2 separate regions of the Homo sapiens genome follow, and region 1 is linked to region 2. Evidence: fine-mapped expression QTL. A gene starts in region 2. The other region holds a variant in brackets. All regions are shown on one strand. Distances are between the middles of the regions. Region 1 overlaps MAU2 (MAU2 sister chromatid cohesion factor). Region 2 holds the start of MAU2 (MAU2 sister chromatid cohesion factor).

Region 1 (5,237 bases), 25 kb after region 2:
GTGTGCTTGTCTACCTGGTGCGTCCCCACCAGGGCCCGGGCCAGGGCTGGGGGCGGGGGCAGGGAGAGGGAGAGGGCCCTGGTAACCCCTGCTGTCTGGTCTTGTCGCTAGGTGACTGTGATGCACTCCATGCAGGCCGGCTACCTGGAGAAGGCGCAGAAGTACACGGACAAGGCCCTCATGCAGCTGGAGAAGCTCAAGAGTAAGTCAGGTGCTCGGCTGGCCACATGGCCACAGCGACCCCTGGCGGACGGCCTGGCCAGACGCTAGCTGTACCAGGGCCCAGTGACCCTGTGTGACCGCAGCGCCCAGCCACCCTGCCTGGTGGGTCTCGTCACCCCTAGTTGATAAATGCTGGTGTCCAACGTCAGAGCAGAGCAGACAGGCCTGGGGTCGGGGGTACCTCCCTGACTGGTCAGGTCCCTTGTGCCCAGTCATGCTCAGTTGAAACAGGTGGTAGCTGCTTTTCCCAATTATTATCAGTGTTGTGACAGGGACACTCGGGATGAGGCCAGGATCAGAACTCAGCCCTCACTGACCACCAGCATGTCCTTTGGAGGTCGTGAGTTCTTTCCAGATGCTCAAGTGTCTAATCCATCCAGGGACCTTTGACTAGCACAAACCCAGAGCAGACGTCCCTGGCTGGTATAGTGTGCCCATTAGTCGGTCTGTTTGCTCCCTCGTGAGTGCTGCTGGGGGAGAAGGCATCAGAGCCAAGGCAGCCCAAAGCCGGATAGGCCCTGTGCTTCTCTTATTCCCATATGAGGATGGTTGCTTGGGGCTGTTGGGAGGTGGGGCCCAGCCCAGGTCCCCCTACCCGACTGCCTGAGGCTCTGCTGCATGGTGTCATGATCCAGGGTGGTTTCCACATTTCTACATTTCTAGAACCTGCCATGTCCACAAGCTCTTGAGCACGTAGGGTGAGGGTGAGGGTGAGAGCCAACCCTTCTTGGAGCACTGTGGGAACCAACCTCTGGCTCCAGCTCCGTCTCCCCACCTGGACAGCAAGACACACTCCTTCACTCAGAGGGTGCAGTGGGGACTAGGGGAGATGACGGGGTGGGTGCCTAGCCAGTGTGGCAGGAGACAGGAACGAGGTGGGGGCACGGTGGGCTGGGGGTGGCGCCTCCTCTGGCCTCCCCTGCATGCTTACCCCTGACTCTCACCCATAGTGCTGGACTGCAGCCCCATCCTGTCATCCTTCCAAGTGATCCTGCTGGAGCACATCATCATGTGCCGCCTTGTCACGGGTCACAAGGCCACGGCGCTGCAGGAGGTAAGGCTGGAAGCAGGAGGGGCGGGAAGGCCCAGGAGTTTGTTGGGTCTCAGCAGTGTCAGACAAGAGACTGAATTCGCCAAGTGCATACTGGCAGGCCAGCCCATCCTGCTGTCTCGCTGTCGGCCAGCGTTTTACAGCCCTGCATGGGCACCACTGATCAGAGAATCTCATACAAAAACCAGTGGAGGCCGGGCGCAGTGGCTCACGCCTGTCATCCCAGCAGTTTGGGAGGCCGAGGCGGGTGGATCACTTGAGGCCAGGAGTTTGAGACCAGCCTGGCCAACATGGCGAAACCCCGCCTCTACTAAAAATATAAAAATTAGCCAGGTGTGGTGGCAGACACCTGTAATCCCAGTTACTTGAGAGGCTGAGGCAGGAGAATAGCCTGAACCCAGGAGGCAGAGGTTGCAGTGAGCCGAGATCGCACTACTGCACTCCAACCTGGGCAACAGAGTGAGACTCCATCTCAAAAAAAAAAACCCAAAAAACTAATGGGCCATGGCCCAAAAGCTTGCACACCAAGGGGATAGCGCACATGGTCTCTGGGGATTTGGGGGGTCCTTTGACAGTGATTGTTATACCCCACCCTGCCATTAGGAACACTCTACCCCCAGTACCCACCCTCCTGAGAGGGCATGGGGGCCCTCAGTAGGCTGGAGGTCCTTTACAACCCAGACACCTGTTGGACAGAGTGGAAGAGACGAGTAACAGACAAGGGTCCCTGTCCACGATGGGATCTGGGCTGCCCTTTGCCCTCATGGTGGACGTGTCTGCTGGGGCTTTGTACCCCAGTTTGGTCAGACAGGACATGGGCTCACCCACCAGCTATGGGGTCTCTCCATTGCTGCTCAGACGCCAGGTCCCAGGTTGCAGTCCTGTGATGGCAGTACACTCTCTCCCGGCAGATCTCCCAGGTCTGCCAGCTGTGCCAGCAGTCCCCCCGGCTCTTCTCCAACCATGCAGCACAGCTGCACACATTGCTGGTGAGTAACCCTGTGACAACACCCCGGGAGAATCCAGAATGTTCTCAGTAAGTAAGTACCTAACCAGATCCAGAACATTCCCAGTGAAGGACCCCCTGACAGCACCCTAATCAGAATCCGGAATGTTCCCATAGGTAATCATATAACCTTCCCAGGCACGATCCGGAATGCTCCCAGTGAGCATCTTGTCCCACCCCACATTGGCTTGGGTCTGAAAGGTGGGGACAGTGAGCATATTACCTGCCTTGCAGCTGGCTCGGTAGAGCCATTGTCATACTCCTCCAGGGCAGCCGTGCAGGCCCCGGGCACACCACGTGTCTCTGATCTGAGCCCCCTCCCCAGGGGCCGGCCCTGATGACAACACCACCTTCTTCCAGGGCCTGTACTGTGTCTCTGTCAACTGCATGGACAACGCGGAAGCCCAGTTCACCACGGCCCTGCGGGTAAGGTGCCGGCCCTCCTTGCTGCTCGGGGCGGGCCACACTTCTGAGTAAGGAGTCGGGCGTGGTCTGTGATGAGGACAGCAGT[C/T]GCGCTAGGTCAGCTATGCAAAGCCGCAGCCCCAGAGGCAATGCACAGTAGTCAGCCCATGCCAGCCTTGGCAGTGACGCGCTGTTTATCTGGATAAGGGACAGCTATGGGGCCAGGGGCTTCCTGAGCTGACCCAAGGGCAGACGTGAGGGAGAGGTGCGACGCGTCCGGGGACACCACTTTCATGCCTGAGTGGGAACTTTTGCGGCACCCACCCCCAAGGCTGGATTGGCTCAAGTGTCAGCTGACAACTCAGAGCCATCCTGGGTTCAGGGCTCCCATGGGGAGTGGTGGAGCTGGGCCATCTCCCAGGTGCTCTTTGGACAGAGGAGGACTCTTGGTCCTGCTGGGCCGGAGAGGGTGAAGCAGCACCCCAGGCTCCTGGCCTTAGACGGGGGCCCCGCCAGGCCCTGGAAGAAGGCTGGTGCCACATCCTCACGGAGCGCCCCAGCCCAGGGCTGGACCATTGTGTCCCCACCTCAGCCTCAACCTCCTCACAGGAAATGGAGGCTGTGGACACCTTTTTCCTGGTGGTGCCAGGAAGGGCCCTGAGGAGAGGTGTCAGGGAGCAGAGGCTGCTCTGTCTGCCACTCGGGCAAGGTCACCAGGGAGTCCTGTGTGCGCCCTGACTGTTGGACAGGGTTCCCATTCCACGGCACCCCGCAGGCCTGTGGGTGCTGCCACCCCCGCCACTGGCCTCAGAGATGCACAGGAGCCCTGACATGCAGACAGCATGCTTGGGAGGGAAGGGCTGACTCAGCACCCACTCCTCTGCCTCCTCACCTCGCTCCCAGGACCCTGGCTCACTCTGACTGCAGCAGGGCCAGGACCCTCCTCGTGGCCCTGCCATCCTGCCATCTCCGTCTCCGTCTCACTCCCCACAAGTGGTTGCTATTGCTGGTTTGGTTCCGCGTCAAAGTTCCCAAGGCCATGTACCCTAAGGAGTCCTCACCCCGAGGCCAAAAGAGAGCCTCTTTTTCATGGCCCACCCAGGAGTGATGGAGCCAGGATGCAACCCCAACACCCCTAACCCCAAACACACACGCCTCCTGTGGCCCTGAAACAAACATCTCCCACCTTGCTACGTCTCAGAGCATCTGTGCTTGATTCGGAAGATCCTCTGGGCCTCCTGGGTGTGTGCCAGGAGGGGATCTGTGCAGGTGGGGTCTGTGCTTCCTGGGCTCACTCCACCTCTTGCCCAGCCCCACTGGGAACCAGGGTCTGAGCAGGGCTTGAGCTACATAGATTGGACCCTCTCTTGACGAACGATCTCATTTGCCAAGAAGAGCCAGGGACCATGGCCCATCCACCACCTGTCATCAGCAGCATTTCTGGTCTCTGACACAGCATCACCTACCTGGAGCGGGGCCTGTGCTGGCCCCCTGTGGGACAACAGCTCCCCTCTTCCCCACTTCCCCCTATGAAGAGTGACCCCCGCCTAGGACCAGCATATGCCTTGATGGCAGTGGACACCTGGGTCCCACAGGTTGCTGGCTGTGGCCTGGAGGAAGGGTCCACCAGGTCTCAGTCCTGAGAGACAGTGGAAAATGGACCAAAACCCGACATGTTCTGAGGGTAGGATTGGGGTGGCTGGTTTTCCTCTTCTGTGTTCTCTAACTGCCCCGTAACGCAGATGATGGTTTTATAATGAGAAGAAGTAATAGCTGTGTTATCCTTGAGCTTAGGAGGCAAAACAAGTGTGTTTGAAATGAAAAGAACAAGTCTTTTCCAAAGTAGTCTCCGTGGAGATTGTGGGTGCTCTGACACTGCCACATGGGTCACAGCACCCGACCCAGCCCCCTAATGTCCCCGCCTCCCATTCCAGCTCACCAACCACCAGGAGCTGTGGGCCTTCATCGTCACCAACCTGGCGAGTGTGTATATACGGGAAGGAAATAGACACCAAGAGGTAGTAGGTGACATGCTTCATGTTCGGTATCCTTTCTCTCTGTTCTCTTCTTTTTGGGGAACCAGGGGGTTGTCCTGGGCACCAGCACATCTCAGCAGACCCCAGGGTGTTCACCTTTTGAGGGATGGGCGGCACCCGACACAGACACACAAGGCGACCCAGAGGTGAATCGGGCTATGGCCGGGGGAGGCCAGGTCTGGGACAAAAACATTCCCATAGCCACAGAACACTTCTCTTTATCACAAACAAACCAAGCTGTATGAATCACACAGACAAGGTCTTATAGCCCAAGCTGTCTGCTCTAGGATGTCGGCCAGGCATTGAGGCTCAGTCCTAAGGGGCAGCAGCCAGAGCACCTTGTCCCCAGGTTGTGCTGATGCCCCTGCAGGATCAGGGGCACTCACTGGCTGCAGTGTTGGGTGGGGATGCCCAGGGTTGCCCTCACGTGGCGCTTCTGAACCAATGCTTGCATAAGAGTTAGGTTCCCTCTTCTGTCCCTTTTAGCCCTGGGATCCCCACTCAGCCCTGGGATCCCCCT
Region 2 (5,477 bases):
GAGTAGCTGGGATTACAGGCGTGAGCCACCACACCTGGCTAATTTTTATATTTTTAGTACAGTTAGGATTTCGCCATGTTGTCCAGGCTGGTCTCGAACTCCCGTCCTCAAGGGAACCTCCAATTTACGCCTCTCAAAGCGCTGGAATTACAGGCGTGAGCCACCGAACCCAGCCTTCTTTTTTTTTTTTTTTTTTTTTGAGATGAAGTATTGCTCTTTTCCCCCAGGCTGGAGTGCAATGGCGCGATCTTGGCTCACTGCAATCTCCACCTCCAGAGTTCCAGCGATTCTCCTGCCTCAGCCTCCCGAGTATCTGGGACTACAGGCATCTGCCGCCATGCCTGGCTAATTTTTTCATATTTTTAGTAGAGATGGGGCTTCACCATGTTGGCCAGGCTGGTCTCGAATTCCTGACCTCAAGTGATCCACCCACCTCAGCCTCCCAAAGTGCTGGGATTACAGGCGTGAGCCACCACACCCAGCCGTTTTTTTTGTTTTGTTTTGTTTTTTTGAGACAGGGTCTCGCTGAGTTGCCCAGGCAGGAGTGCAGTTGCATGATCGTAGCTCACTGCATCCTCAAACTCCTGGGCTCTAGAGATTCTCCCACCTCAGCCACCCGAGTGGCTAGGACTACAGGCACACTCTACCAGGCCTAGCTATTTTCTTTTATTTTTTGTAGAGACAGGTTCTTGCTATGTTCCCCAGGCTAATCTTGAACTCCTGTCCTCAAGGGAGCCTCCCATTTAAGCCTCCCAAAATGCTGAGATTTTAGGCATGGATCACCACACCTAGCCAATATCCACAGGGTCGTTTTATTTTCATCCTGGCTACTAGGTAATCATTCTGGCCAGAGAATCCACAGGCAACAAGACCAGGGAGGCTCACTGGCTCCAAGCAACAGACAATGATGTCTTCAGACTAGGGTGATAGTATGGAGACAGGGAAGACACCTCAGAGGTTCCCCATGGGACTCAGAATAAAATCCAAATTTTAAAAGTCTGAGCCGGGCATGGTGACTCACACCTGTAATCCCAGCACCTGGGAGGCTGAAGCAGGCAGATCACTTGAGGTCAGGAGATCGAGACCAGCCTGGCCAACATGGTGATACCCCGTCTCTACTAAAAATACACAAAAACACTGGCCAGGTGCGGTGGCCGGCGCCTGTAATCCCAGCTACTCAGGAGGCTGAGGCAGAAGAATGGCTTGAACCCGGGAGGTAGAGGTTGCAGTCAGCCGACATCGTGCCACTGCACTCCAGCCTGGGCGACAGAGCGAAACTCCGCTTCAACAAAAAGAAAAAAAGAATTCTAAAAGGCCATTTTCAAGGCCCCGCCAGATGGTTCCCCTCCCTTCTGCTTCATCCTTGACATTCTTCAAAAGGACAAGCCCATCCTACCAGGGCCTCTGCATTTACTGGCCCCCCTCTGTGTGGAAGGCTCCACCCTCCAGGGATTCCCATAGCTGGCATTCATTGTCTTAACTCAAATGTCCTCTGCTTGAAAAGGCCTTTCCCTGGGCCAGGTGTGGTGGCTCACACCTTTACGTAACCCCAGCACTTTAAGAGGCTGAGATGGGAGGATCGCTTGAGCCTAGGAATTCCAGACCTGCATGGGAAACGTGGCAACACAAAAAACACACAAATTCGCTGTGTGGTGGCGCGCATCTGTGGTCTCAGCTACTAGGGAGGCTGAGGTGGGAGGATCACCTGAACCCAGGGAGCCACAGTGAGCCACTGCACTACAGCCTGGGCGACAAAGTGAGACCCTGTCTCAAAAAAAAAAAAAAAAAAAAAAAGAAAGAAAGAAAGAAAAGGTCTTTCCTGACTACCCAATATCAGAAGCCTCCACTCTGATCATATCATACGTAACCTCACATCATACGTAAGTTTTTGTAAATATTTTCTCATTAATGCACTGACACCCCAGTAGAAAGCAACCTCCAGGAAGGCAGGGCCCTGTTTCGGTCACCGCTGCATGCGTAGCGCCCAGCACACTGCTTGGCACACAGTGAGCACGCCCTAAGTATCTGCTGATGGGTAAATGCATTCTATTCTGGGGAAGCAGAAAGGCCAAGGCTTGCAGCAAAGTGAGGGTCAAAAGACGCGGGAAAGTGTGTCAAGGGAGCCTCAAAGCACTTCGGAAAAGCAGCTTTTCCAGAAAGCGGGACACAGGCCAGAGGCCAGCTGCGACGAAAAGAGGGGTGCAGGGACAGCCCAAGGTTGTCGCCGTATTGGGGAACGGAGGTTGGAGCAGCCCTGAAGGCGGTTGTTTCGGAAACGGGACGCAGGGCCGAGCCGGGTGGCGGCCTCTACGGAGATCCGTGCGTCCTCAGCAAACCAAGCGGGGGCGGCCAGCAACCTGGGTCTGGGGTCTCGAGAAACCAAGAGGTGCAGAAGCCGACGCTGTGGGCTGCCCCGGGGCTGAAGCGAGGGATCCACGGGTCGCAGCAGGACGGACCCGAGGAGTCAGGGGAGACACCTAGCCCCAGGGACCCAGGCGGCCGCCTGAGAGGAGGCGGGGGCTGTTACCTGCAACATCCCGGTTGTCCATCTTGAGACTCATCCAATCCCACAATGCTCCGGCGCCCCTTAAGGGGCCCTGTTATAGTGTGCATCGCCTGATGGGAGATGTAGTCCGCCTCGGTCAGACTCGCCCTATTACTGCGTGAACGACTGGGTTTTTTTTTTTTTAACCTCCAGAAACGGAAGCCTCAGCCTATCAGCGATGCCTAAGTCCCAGTCACGATAACCAAACGGCGTCGCCCTTTTACACCTTCCCGGAGCGGCAGTCATCCCAAATACAAACTACATGTTCCAGGATGCTTTGGGCGGCAGATCTCGCGGAAGCCGCGAGGAGAGCCCGGCCCCGTCTCGCGCGCCTGCTTCCGCCTCCCTGTGGCGGCGGCTTGTTGTTGTGGAGGCCAAAATGGCGGCTCAGGCGGCGGCAGCGGCCCAGGCGGCGGCGGCCCAGGCTGCGCAGGCCGAGGCGGCCGACTCGTGGTACCTGGCGCTTCTGGGCTTCGCTGAGCACTTCCGCACTTCCAGCCCGCCCAAAATCCGCCTGTGCGTGCACTGCCTGCAGGCCGTGTTCCCCTTCAAGCCGCCGCAGCGCATCGAGGCCCGTACACACCTGCAGCTGGGCTCCGTTCTCTATCACCACACCAAGAACAGCGAGCAGGCGCGCAGCCACCTGGAGAAGGCGGTGAGCGCGGGCCGGGCCGCGAGGGAGGAGTCGCGGGCTCCTTGCAAGATCTGGGCTGACGGGTCGCGACCGCGGCGGGTGGGGGGCCGCTCCTCGGCGACCTGGGGGCGCGACCTCCGTCAAAGCCGCAGGACCCCCACCCGCCTCTGCCGGACCCCAAAGCCACCAGCCTCTCAAGGGACACGAAAGCCTCGCCCCCCACGCCTTATTTCCCGTTTCTGGTGACAGGGCTCCAGGAGCCCCGTCACCGTACTCTGAAAGTTGCCTGTTATTGGGAGCAACAGGATCCGCAAATCGTCTGGTTTTCAGGAGGATCCCACCTGTTGGTGGCGATGGGGACATCACAGGGTCCTGAAGCTATTAGCTCCTCCTGGTTCAGCTTCCGGAGCATCAGCCCCAAACGCTTCCACCTAAAGTGACTTGGGGTAGGGGTTGGCGAAGGCGAGACCCCTGGCATTCTCCCGGGAATCTGAAGTCTGGTCTCTCAGGAACCTGGAAGGGCATGATTCTCCTTGGACACAGAAGTTTGGTAATCGTGGTTTTTGGAGGGTCTTGTGCCCCCATCAATAATGCCTGGTGTCGTACGAGGGAAGCTGAGACCCGGAGTCTGGAGTTGGTCATTTGAGGCCTATGAGGAGGAGAAACAGGGGTTCTGGATTCCAGGCCCCGCTGTTCAGTTTCAGTATTAGGGGAACTAAAAGCAGCTCCTGCTTTTTCTCCATCCACTGGTGACTTCTACCATCCATCAGTCCATCCTCTTCCGTCAGAGTGAGTCCCTCCCCTGACCCAACTTGATTTGTGTCATCTTGGTGCCTCAAAGAATGCGGGAGAGTGGCTGTCATTCTGCCCTTTAGTAAACTTTCTTTTTTTTTTTTTTTTTGAGACGGAGTCTTGCTCTGTCACCCAGGCTGGAGTGCAGTGGTGCCATCTTGGCTCACTGCAAGTTCCGCCTCCCGGGTTCAGGCCATTCTCCTGCCTCAGCCTCCTGAGTAGCTGAGACTACAGGCGCCCGCCACCACGCCTGCCTAATTTTTTGTATTTTTTAGTAGAGATGGGGTTTCACCGTGTTAGCCAGGGTGGTCTCCATCTCCTGACCTCATGATCTGCCCACCTCGGCCTCCCACAGTGCTGGGATTACAGGCTTGAGCCACCGCGCCCGGCCCCTTTAATAAACTTTCTAGGGCCAGGCTCAGTGGCTTATGTCTGTAATCCCAGTATTTTGGGAGGCGGAGGCAGACAGATTACTAGACCCCAGGAGTTTGAGACCAGCCTGGGCAACACAGTGAGATCCCGTCTCTACAAAAAATACAAAAACTAGCTGGGCGTACTGACGCGGGCCTGTAGTCCCATCTACTCCAGAGGCTGAGGTGGGAGGATCAGCTAAGCCCCGGGAGGTCGTGGCTGCAGTGAGCAGTGATCACGCCACTTCACTCCAGCCTTGGTGACAGTGAAACCCTGTCTCAGAAAAAAAAGATAATAAGGAAAAAATAATAAAATTTCAGGCTGTGGAGTCGTTTTTTTCTCACAGCAGCGCTGTGATCCTGTCAGACCCCTGCCTCCCTTTTACCTTTTACCCAGCTCTGTCCTGCTTGAATAGAAAATTATTGAAAAGAATCAACTCAGATTTTAAAAACTCATTAATCTGAGGTAAATCCAAGCCCACCCTCAGCTAGTAACAACTTGCCTTGAGGAATAGATCAAATCTTTGTTTCACAGACTGAAAAGTTGGAAGGAGACTTTATTTTATTTTATTTTATTTATTTGTTTATTTTGAGACGGAGTTTCGCTCTTGTTGCCGGGGCTGTAGCGCAATGGCAGGATCTCAGCCCACTGCAACCTCCGTCTCCCGGGTTCAAGTGATTCTCCTGCCTCAGCCTCCCGAGTAGCTGGGACTACAGGTGTGCGCCACCACACCCAGCTAATTTTTGTATTTTTAGTAGAGACGGGTTCACAGTATTGGCCAGGCTGGTCTTGAACTCCTGACCTTGTGATCCACTCCCCTCGGCCTCCCAAAGTGCTGAGATTACAGGCATGAGCCACTGCGCCCAGCCCCAGATAATTTTTTTTCTTTTTTTTTTGAGACAGATTCTCGCTTTGTCACCAGGCTGGAGTGCAGTGGCGCGGTCTTGGCTCACTGCAACTTCCGTCTCGTGGGTTCAAGCAATTCTCTTGCCTCAGCCTCCCGAGTAGCTGGGATTACAGGCTTGCACCACATCATCTGGCTAATTTTTGTATTTTTAGTAGAGACAGAGTTTCACCATTTGGTCAGGCTGGTTT

The links. PIP is the estimated chance that this variant, and not a neighbour inherited with it, causes the effect.
Region 1: its variant is the best candidate, but not a certain one, in a credible set for the expression of MAU2 in whole blood (TOPMed, PIP 0.77).

The regions. Positions count from the first base shown.
Region 1 is chr19:19,342,665-19,347,901 of GRCh38, forward strand. MAU2 (MAU2 sister chromatid cohesion factor) reads left to right here. Exons shown (of 19, transcript NM_015329.4): 8 at 1-17; 9 at 112-202; 10 at 1,173-1,276; 11 at 2,185-2,262; 12 at 2,640-2,705; 13 at 4,616-4,702. Among named protein-coding and RNA genes, the nearest start is that of MAU2, 24 kb to the left of the region's middle. RefSeq lists silencers at 1-80, 121-260. The variant C/T (reference allele first, on the strand shown) is at 2,791.
Region 2 is chr19:19,317,936-19,323,412 of GRCh38, forward strand. MAU2 (MAU2 sister chromatid cohesion factor) reads left to right here and starts at 2,894. Exons shown (of 19, transcript NM_015329.4): 1 at 2,894-3,200. The coding sequence starts at 2,925. SUGP1 (SURP and G-patch domain containing 1) reads right to left here and starts at 2,574. Exons shown (of 14, transcript NM_172231.4): 1 at 2,528-2,574. The coding sequence starts at 2,561. RefSeq lists enhancers at 2,442-2,491, 2,512-3,001, 2,710-3,681 and a silencer at 3,053-3,274.